Homo sapiens: one gene and its partners. The protein of the gene in region 1 purifies or fractionates together with the protein of each later gene. This does not show direct contact. Each region holds a gene or a part of one and is shown in the gene's direction. Other genes may lie near its edges. The genes, in order: TMEM204, SLC12A7 and AXL.

What was found.
Region 2: the proteins of TMEM204 (region 1) and SLC12A7 purify together in Homo sapiens (affinity purification with mass spectrometry; one large-scale study listed by BioGRID and IntAct). This does not show direct contact.
Region 3: the proteins of TMEM204 (region 1) and AXL purify together in Homo sapiens (affinity purification with mass spectrometry; one large-scale study listed by BioGRID and IntAct). This does not show direct contact.

The regions. Positions count from the first base shown.
Region 1 is NC_000016.10:1,550,643-1,553,492, forward strand, and holds part of TMEM204 (transmembrane protein 204), read left to right. Parts: intron 1-2,301; exon of another isoform or gene 2,302-2,850. UniProt on the Homo sapiens protein: Can influence paracellular permeability. Appears to be involved in cell-cell interactions through adherens.
Region 2 is NC_000005.10:1,084,500-1,088,148, reverse strand, and holds part of SLC12A7 (solute carrier family 12 member 7), read left to right. Parts: intron 1-1,115; coding exon 1,116-1,246; intron 1,247-2,675; coding exon 2,676-2,917; intron 2,918-3,649. UniProt on the Homo sapiens protein: Mediates electroneutral potassium-chloride cotransport when activated by cell swelling. May mediate K(+) uptake into Deiters' cells in the cochlea and contribute to K(+) recycling in the inner ear.
Region 3 is NC_000019.10:41,253,612-41,257,260, forward strand, and holds part of AXL (tyrosine-protein kinase receptor UFO isoform 1 precursor), read left to right. Parts: coding exon 1-97; intron 98-2,840; coding exon 2,841-3,000; intron 3,001-3,649. UniProt on the Homo sapiens protein: Receptor tyrosine kinase that transduces signals from the extracellular matrix into the cytoplasm by binding growth factor GAS6 and which is thus regulating many physiological processes including cell survival, cell proliferation, migration and differentiation.

The DNA.
Region 1 (2,850 bases):
CCTACCCGCTCTGTGCTTTGCTCCATGGTTTAGCCTTCCCACTTTTAATTTAGAGTCTGGAGAGCCTTCCCTGCAAGCTTGACCCTCCACATAGGGCAAGGCCCTGCCAAATGCCACCCTCTGGGGACACAGAGATTAATGACTTCCCCATCTCTCTAAGAGGAATGCCAGTTCCCCAAGGAAAGTCAAGAGCGCCCTAGCCGTCTCTGTGGCTGACGCTGACCCTAGCGTGGTCCCCGGCGTGCCAGTGGAGGCTGAACAGGCCTGTTGAGTACAGGGCCACGTAGCCGATGCCAGTGGGTCCTTGGGAATCGTGCTGCCCCTCCGTGAGCATTCGAGGGCACCAGGGTAGCGGCATCTACGTGATCTGGCCAAAGGGCTCTGTCCCTTTGAGGGGTCCTGGTCACTCAACTGCCAAGGCTGCTGTTCCTCCTCGCCTTTCCCGCAGCTCCACACTGCATTCTGTTCTGTTTCACGTCTACTTTGGTCTCCTCAAACGATTAACTCAAAAAGTAATTGCGGAGAGACTTCTGGGAAGCTGTGGTCAATGGTGGGGCAAGTTCTGGCCCCGGGGAGCCTGCCCTGTGGCGGGGGAGAGCGGCCAGAGCCACCCATGGGTAAAGACACAATGACCACGGCTGGCAGGGGTGGGCAGGTGCAACTCTAAGCCGAGGCCCGAAGGATCAGCAGCAGGAGGGGCCCCTCCTCCCCAGGGCCAGTCAAGCCGGGGACAGTGGCACGAGGAGAAGCCCAGAGTAGGTGGACCCAGTGACTGAGAGGGGTGGAAAGGGCCACTGGGCCCCAGGGTGGCAGAAGGGCGGCCGCAGGTAGCAGGGGAGACCCTAAGGCGATGGGAGCCACAAGGGTGCTGAGTGCTGGGGAGACAGGATGTGAGTTTCATACAGATCAGGGTGCAGCGGTGGAGGGAGGGCCGCCTGCATCAGTATCCCCAGCAAGGTCACCCGGCACTGCTGCAGACACCTTGAAACGTCCAGCACATTCCTCACTGTCGAACCCAACTTCAGGACATGCTTGTTCACGGAAGAGCCTAAGATCAGCGGCACTTCAGTCTTCTACGGGGTTTTGTTGGGAGCTACCTATACAAAGGAGGCCACACCACACGTGCGTGGTCCGGCAGATCCGGCAAGATCAACTCTGCGGGACCTCCCACCCGGGCTGGTTGCCCTGTGTTGCCTTAGAGTTTTCTTCCCGAGGTTTTCCTAGAAAGCCACTGTAAATCCGAGCTGTGCACTCAGAAGCCTCCCGGGTGTGTCCCTGGTGATGTCCCCGGGGCCTCTCCCTGGTGACGTGTGGCCCGCGCTGTCCCCCTGCAATGACGGTACCTCCAGGTCCCCTATGTGTGGAAACTGACCCCCACGGCAACCGCAGACCGTGAGGGAGGTTGACCCTGGAAGCCATGGGGGGCACAATCCCTTTCCACTGTTCCATTCGGATGAATGATGTGTGGAACTAGAGGCCCCCTGAGATTTTAAACACGTTTCTGTAACACCCGCAAGTAGAAAGGAAGCCTGGTGAGGGGGAGAAACAGGCTGTGGCCATGGCGGGCTGGAGCCTGATGAAGGCCAGTTACTGCCGGTATAACCTCCTCCCGCCCTCGAGGGTCTCAGGGCTTGCATCGCCCCCCTGCTGGGCTGGGACTCTCCCCAAGGCTCCCACTGTCCCTGCCAAGAGCGCCCCACCCCTCCCGCTCGCCTCTGTCTCGGGTGTCCTGAGCTCTCCGCTGTGCCTGCCCTGCCTCCAGGACCACCTCCTCTGAGCCCTGACACCAGCACAACCCACACCCCACCGGCAGAAAGTGCCAGACCCCGTAAACATGAGTGGACGCTGTTCAAAGTGCCCTCATTTTCCTCACACACAACACAGGCTCATTCCTTCACCCCAGTAACACAAGCATCGATACCACACAATCGTGAGCAGAGGGCACATTCCGCACTGGTAGAAATGCCAGAAGTTTCCTTTGTTAGTATTCATTACAAAGAGAATGCTTTTTTTTTTTTTTTTTTGAAATGGAGTCTCGCTCTGTCGCCAAGGCTGGAGTGCAGTGGCGTGATCTCGGCTCACTGCAACCTCCGCCTCTTGGGTTCAAGCAATTCTCTGCTTCAGTCTCCTGAGTAACTGGGATTACAGGTGCCTGCCACCACACCTCACTAATTTTTTTTTTTTGTATTTTTAGTAGAGATAGGGTTTCACCATCTTGGCCAGGCTGGTCTTGAACTCGTGACCTCGTGATCCACCCGCCTCAGCCTCCCAAAGTGCTGCGATTATAGGCGTAAACCACTGTGCCTTGTCTAGAATGTTATTTTTAATAAAACAGAAGTATCCAGGAGCTACCCATGTATAAGAAGCTCCATGAAGTATTATAAAGAATGAACACAGAAACCAGTCACTGTCATTGTTCAGGACAAAATGGAGATAGATAAATGCTTAATTCATACTTTCTGGAGGGTACAGTGATGATGAAAAGATAATGCTTGGGTTTTTAGGAAAAACAAGGCTGGTTACCCATCTCTTGCTCTCTGTCTCTCCTTCCCTGTGTCTCTGTCTCTGTCTCTCTCTGTCTCCATCTGTCTCTGTGTCTGTCTCTGTCTCTCTGTATCTCTCTTGGTCTCTGTCTCTCTGTGTCTCTGCCTGTCTCTCTGTGTCTCTGTCTCTGTGTCTCTGTCCCTGTGTCTCTTTTTCTCCCATCCTCTCTCGATGCTGGGGCCACACAGGGCAGGGCATGATTTGGTTTCCTGGGGAATGCAGGGGAGGCGGTTGGGAGTGGAGAGACCGGCATGAACAGACGCACAGGTGTCAACATGCAGGCCAGGCGGAGGGACAGCAGTGGGG
Region 2 (3,649 bases), on another chromosome or scaffold:
GTTTGAGCCGTGAGGTCACGGCTGTTTGGTTTTCTTCCCCATTTTGCTGCGTGGTGACCGTCTCTTGCCAGGGTAGGCAGTGCCCACCAGGCAGCGGGCTGGGGAGGGGGAGGCACGGGCGATTCCAGTGGCTCCTGTAGCCCAGCGTGTGCCATAGGCTGAGTTCTTGGAACCTGTATCTCACGAGGGAAGGTGAAGACAAAACACTGCCCTGACCTTGTTAATTAGTAATAAGTTAATTACAATACATAATAACTAAATAACTAGTGAACCGAGATGATATTAATTAGTAATAAGTTAATTACAATACGTAATAACTAGTAAACTGAGATGATACTGTTAATTAGTAATAAACGAATTACGATACGAAATAACTAGTGAACGGAGACGCTGCCACGTCTGCTTCTGAGTGCATGTGTGCTGCGCGTGTTAACGGCTGGGCTTGCTCAGCACCAGGTCCTCACGCAGCTGGTCCCCATCCCCACGGGGGCATCGCTTGGTGCTCAGCGGACTTCCCCGGCCTCAGGAGAGCACGAGGGCCTTCACCAGGGGTCTCCCTCCGCAGCCAAGGGACCAGTCTCTGCTTCACGATGGCCGCGTCCATTAGGACCCCTTCCACATGCCACACGCACTGCTCAGAGCAGGGAGAGCTGTGTTCTCCAGGCAGCCCTGGGGTTGCGCCCGGCTTTCCCGCCAGTGATAGCGTGCGTGGTTCACAGTACACGAGACGACTCCTGAACATCCTAGTTTCTCTTTTGCCTTTTTCATAAGCAAAACTTAGTGGAAGTGGGGGCTGGGGCTGCCACTGATGTACGCGGGACTTTTTCTGGGACCTGCTGGGGCCTCCTGCTCCCCAGAGAGCCTTATCCCTGATCTCACCTGGTCCTCATGTCCATGAGAGCGCGTGCTCTTGGTGTGGAACGTGTGCCGAGCCTCGGGAGGGGAGAGTTCACCGTGGAAGCGTCTCCATGTGCTGCTTTGCGGGTGGACGAGGGTCTACACGCTGCCTTCGCAGAGACAGGCCCTCCTTTGCCCGTGAATGGCAGCGCAGACCGCACCTCGGGTCCGAGTCCAAGTGCGCCCCTGACCCGCGGCTGCCGCCTTTGTCTCCGCAGCTGGCGGGTCCTACTACATGATATCGCGCTCGCTGGGACCCGAGTTTGGAGGCGCTGTCGGCCTCTGCTTCTACCTGGGCACGACGTTTGCAGGGGCCATGTATATTTTGGGGACCATCGAGATTTTTCTGGTAAGTGTGCTGCTTTGGAAGGGTTCCCACCCCACAGTCTGTGGCAGGATGCCAAGGGGCCCTGCCTGACCCACTCTGTGGCACACACAGCACACTGAGCCATCCTGACCCCACTGCCCTGGCTGCCCCTGGGCTCTCCTGGGCTCTGGCCATGGCGGAAGCCACTGGGCAGCGTCCACTCAGCAGCGACCTGTGTCCCCCTTGAGCACCATTGCTGCCCTCCGTGAGGCGTGCCTGGCATGAGCTGGGTAGACATCTGGACTGTAGATCTGAGCCCCGCGTAGGTGCAGTCCTGCAGTCGGAGCTGTTTTAGGAGCAGGGCTGGAACTCGGCTTAGAAGAACCTTTTGCCAGGATCCCAGCCTCTTCTCTGCCTGATCTGGGCACTTGGCCGAGGGTCCCAGAGCCCAGCAATGTACAACCAGGTGATGTCATCACCTTCTCAAAACAGGCATGCTCAAAGCATGTCCCACATCACCTGAGCACAGCTGAGAGCTGTGGCCTGAGTTCCTTGGTCCTCGTGGGGACGGGAACCGCCCTTCTCTGGCCGACGGGTGCTGTCCTTCCTGCTGAGGTTCTGAAACCCGCTGTCCCTGCAGGGCTTCAGAGACGCTCACCTGAGCCCCTGTCCCCAGTCTTTCTGCCCCTCCCTCTGCTGCCAGACCTGGTTCCTGGCCTCCTGGGTTCCTGAAGAGAGCCACATGGCCAAGAAGGTTCTGAAACCTTTCAGTGGGGTCGCACCCACACCCGTCCCAACCCGAGTCCCCTGGCCATGTCCCTCCATCTTTCCACCTGCCCCGGGTGCCGTGGCTGCCGCACTCCCAGGATCCCCTTTGGTGGGGGTGGGTGCCATGCCCTCCATGCCTGCTGCACCCCAGTCCTGTCCTGGTCTTGAGGGAGCTGAGCAGCACTGTCTCACGTCTCCGTCCCTTCCCTTGAATCTGGGCAGAACAGAGGTTGCCCCCCGCCGGCGTGGTCAGACCCTGTGTGTGTCCAGGACGTCCAGCCGGGGTGGGCCGAGCTCTCTGGGCAGCAGTCACATTCCTCTTAGCAGAAGGTGTTTCTTTTGAGTGCGGACATGCGGATGCCCCGGGTCCTGAAGTTGCTTTACTCTAAGGCTCCCGGGTGGTTCCTGGGAAACGTTCAGGCCCCTGGCTGTCCATGGCCTGTGCGCTGACCCCCGCGGGCTCCGTCCCTCGCCTGTGCGCTGACCCCCGCGGGCTCCGTCCCTCGCCTGTGCGCTGACCCCCGCGGGCTCCGTCCCTTGCCTGTGCGCTGACCCCCGCGGGCTCCGTCCAGCACGGATGCGTCCCGATGGCCCCGGCACCTGTTGGGAGGAGGCCCCTGTGTGGCGCTGGGGGCTTGCGGGAGGGACGGGCACTGGGGAGTTGTGTCCGGGGACGGCCTCCCGACCGGCCTTGTTCCCACAGACGTACATCTCCCCGGGTGCGGCCATCTTCCAGGCGGAGGCTGCAGGTGGCGAGGCGGCCGCCATGCTGCACAACATGCGTGTGTACGGCACGTGCACGCTCGTGCTCATGGCCCTGGTGGTCTTCGTGGGCGTCAAGTATGTCAACAAGCTGGCGCTGGTCTTCCTGGCCTGCGTCGTGCTGTCCATCCTGGCCATCTATGCCGGCGTCATCAAGTCTGCCTTCGACCCCCCGGACATCCCGTGAGTCTCGGGGCCTCTGAGCCGTGGGTGGGTGTGGGGCTGGGGCCAGGTCCCATGGGCTCTGCCCGCCTCTCGTCCATCATCCTTGACGCCGAGCTCCCCGCAAGGGGTGGGCTGGGTGTGACCGTGGCGGGAACCCCCGTGGGCTCGTTCTGGGGATTACAGGAAACCCAACGGTGAGGTGGGCCGAGGTACCCTCGTGGCCGGGTCTGAGCATGAAGACCCTCCTCAGTGGCAGGAGGGCTGGTGAGGGGTCTGGCAGGTTTCAGGGGTGGCCGGTGGCCCTGAGCACGGTCAGGTGCAGTGAGCGTCATGGGTGTGGCCCTGGCTGCTGCTGGGGCCTGGGTGTCTTCTCCCTCCCAGAGGTGCTTGGAGGGGCTCTTTTCTTGTCCTTTTGGAGGAGCAGCTGGGAGGCGGCCCAGGGTCCTGGAACATGGGAGTGGCCACCAGAGCCCGCAGGGAGCAGGTCCAGAAAGGGCCAGCAGCCAAGCCCCTTGAGGCTCCCGCGGTTTTGCCGTCTCTGCGTGGAGGGAGCCCCTGAAGGAACAGCCTCATAGAGGCCTCAAAACAGAGGGAGGCAGAACAGCTGCAACCCCACAAGCCCGTTTTAGGGAAGCACAGCTGCCCTCCCCCTCGGGGACCCGTCCTGAGACCCCCTGCCGATGCTTGACGCTACGGCCCTGTGTAGACTGTTTTCCACGTACAGGCCTGGCTTATACGTCGGGGGCGGCA
Region 3 (3,649 bases), on another chromosome or scaffold:
AGATGCTAGTGAAGTTCATGGCAGACATCGCCAGTGGCATGGAGTATCTGAGTACCAAGAGATTCATACACCGGGACCTGGCGGCCAGGAACTGCATGTGAGTGCCTTTCAGGGACCCCCCCCCCCCAACTGCTCCTGCACTCCCTGAGGGAGTTCCCTCCCTCCTTCTTAGGATGGAAGCAGGGCTAGACACCCGCTGAGGGCAGGTCAGAACTCAGGACCAGGAAAGTCAGTAAGGGGGTCTGGGAAGGCTTCCTGGAGGAGGTGAGTCCTGAACTGAGATCTGGAAGGAGCATTTGGATGCGGAGAGGGAAGAGACCAGAAGGTGGGCTCAGTGCACAGCATGAGGTGAGCAAAGGGGCTGAGGTGACCGATGGGGGTGGGGACACGTGAGCTGCATCTCTGTCCCACTCCATGCTGGGTGTCTTGCCTGGGGCTGCCCTTTGGAAGCGGCCACACTGGATAAGAAAATCAAACTCCCCACCAATGGACAAGCAGAAAATATGCCAGATGGGGTGCAGTGGCTCACGCCTGTAATCCCAGCACTTTGGGAGTCCGAGGCGGGTGGATCACTTGAGGCCAGGAGTTCGAGACCAGCCTTGGTGAAACCCCCTGTCTACTAAAAGTACAAAATTCAGCCTGGTGCGGTGGTGTGCGCCTGTAATCCCAACACGAGAATTGCTTGAACCCAGGAGGCGGAGGTTGCAATGAGCCGAGATCGCATCACTGCACTCCAGCCTGGGCGACAGAGCAAGACTCTGTCTCAAAAAAAAAAAAAAAAAGAAAGAAAGAAAGAAAGAAAGAAAAAAGAAAATAGTAACCTGTAGTCCCAGCCATTCCCAAGGCTTAGGTGAGAGGATTGCTTGAGCCTCGAGACCAGCCTGGGTAACAACAACGAGACACCATCTCAAAAAAAAAGAAAAAAAGAAAAGAAAGAACAAAAAATCCCCCAAAAGCCAGAATAGAGGGTAAGGGGAGGGTAGAAGGTGGAGGGAATGGAACCACAGAGTTAGAATATTAGTCTTGGCCAGGCGCAGTGGCTCACATCTATAATCCCAGCCCTTTGGGAGGCTGAGGCAGGAGGATCACTTGTACCCAGGAGTTCAAGACCAGCCTGGGCAACATAGTGAATCCTGTCTTTACAAAAAATAAATTAGCTGGGCATGGTGGTGTATACCTGTGGTTCCAGCTACTTGGGAGGCTGAGGTGGAAGGATTGCTAGAGCCCAGGAGGTTGAGGCTGAAGTCAGCCATGATGGTATCACTTCACTACTGCCTGGGCAACAGGGCAAGATCCCATCTAAAAAAAAATTGATGTATATTTTACATACACTAAAATATACACATGCAGCTCAGCTCGATGAATTTTTATGGGTATAGACCCATGTAACCACTAGATGAAGGTAAAGAATATTTCTTAGCCCCAGCAGGCTCCTTCATGCCTCTTCGTCTTCCCAATCACTACCGCCAAGTGGTACCCACTATCCTGACTTCTCAGTGCTAGTTTAGCCTGTTCTGAAAAGTCATACAAATGGGATCATGCAGTTTGTACTGCTTTGTGTCTGGCTTCTATGGCTCAGCATGATGTTTTTGAGATGGATCTGTGTAGGGGTAGTTTGCTCTTTTTCTTTGCTGTGTGGTATGGTATTCCATCATATGAATGTCCTGTGGATTTTCTTTTCTTTTTTTCTCTTTCTTTCTTTTTCTTTCTTTTCTTTCTTTTTCTCTCTGTCCTTTCTTCTTTCTTTTCTTTCTCTTTCTCTCTCTTTATCTCCTTCCTTCCTTCCTTCCCTCCCTCCCTCTCTCTTTCCCTTTCTTTCCCTTTTTTTCTTTCTTTTCTTTTTTGTTTTGACAGAGTCTTACTCTGTCCTTTAGGGTGGGGTGCAGTGGCATGATCATAGCTCACTGTAGCCTCCAACTCCTGGCTCAAGCTATCCTTCTGCCTCAGCCTCCTAAGTAGCTGGAACTACAGACATGTGCCACCATGTCCAGCTAATTTTTAAATTTTTTTGTAGAGACAGGGTCTTGCTTTGTTTTCCAGGCTGGTCTTGAACTCCTAGCCTCAAGTGATCCTCCCACCTTGGCCTCCCAAGGTGCTGAAATTACAGGCTTGAGCCACTGTGCCTGTTTTTTTTTTTGTTTGTTTTTGAGACGGAGTCTCACTCACTCTGTTGCCCAGGCTGGAGTGCAGTGGCGTGATCTCAGCTCACTGCAACCTCCGCCTACTGGGTTCAACTGATTCTCTTGCTTCAGCCTCCCAGGTAGCTGGGATTTCAGATGTGCACCAACACACCTGGCTAATTTTTGTACTTTTAGTAGAGACAGAGTTTCACCACATTGGCCAGGCTGGTCTCAAACTCCTGACCTCAAGTGATCCACCTGCCTTGGCCTCCCAGAGTGCTGGGATTACAGGCGCCAGCCACCATGCCCAGCCATGTTCTGTTTCTTAATCTGGGTGCTGGTTACATGGGTGTGTGTGTGTGTGTGTGTGAAAATTCAGTGAGCTGCTTACTTATGACTTGTGCACATTTCCATATGTACAGTATACTTCAAGAAAAAAAAATTTCATCAAGGAATCAAACCCAAGGAAGGACCTTAGAATCTAGCAAAGAGCCAAAATTGGGAAGTCCTGAGGAAGCCCTTTGTCCCATCCTCACTTGACAGAGTGAACAAGAAGTAAAGCAGTTCCCTTCTGGACTGGGATGAAGGTTTAGGAGACAGATCCCCACCCGCAGCCAGGACAGTGAGGGGAGGAGGTGCAGATGTGTCTGAGAGCCAGGGCAGGCTTCCTGGTGGAGGTGACTGATGCCCTGACCCTGTTCCTTTCCCCAATCCAAACAGGCTGAATGAGAACATGTCCGTGTGTGTGGCGGACTTCGGGCTCTCCAAGAAGATCTACAATGGGGACTACTACCGCCAGGGACGTATCGCCAAGATGCCAGTCAAGTGGATTGCCATTGAGAGTCTAGCTGACCGTGTCTACACCAGCAAGAGCGATGTGGTAGGTGCACTCCCGCCAAGAGTGGGGAACCATGGGAGGGCATGGCCTGACCATCACACACTATGCCTGGGTGGCTGTGGATGCAAGGGTCACAGGGACATGTGGGCTTCCCTTTGCAGGGGCTTGTCCACATGGGCTGGGCATGTCTTGGGGTATGGTGGGCATCTCTGAATAGTGGTGTGTACATGCCCAGGATAAATACAGGCCCACGTGTGCATGGTAGCAATGTAGACAGTTTAGGTTAGAAGAAGCTGCAGTGATTATGCGTGCATGTGCGCACACTCATAGAATGTGGACAGCCAGGGTGTGCAGAGTGGCACATGAGCTCATGTGTCCATGAAGTGTGTATATGTGTGTGATGGTGAGCATGTGTATGCATCCACAAAAGTTACTTATTCATGTGTATACCCGTGTCAAGTATTTTTTATATATATATATTTTTCTTTTTTTGAGATGGAGTCTCGCACTGTCACCCAGGCTGCAGTGCAATGGCATGATCTCAGCTCACTGCAGACTCTGCCTCCCGGGTTCAAGCAATTCTCCTGCCTCAGTCTCCCGAGTAGCTGGGATTACAGGCGCCCACCACCATGCCTAGCTAATTTTTGTATTTTTAGTAGAGACGGGGTTTCACTATATTGGCCAGGCTGGT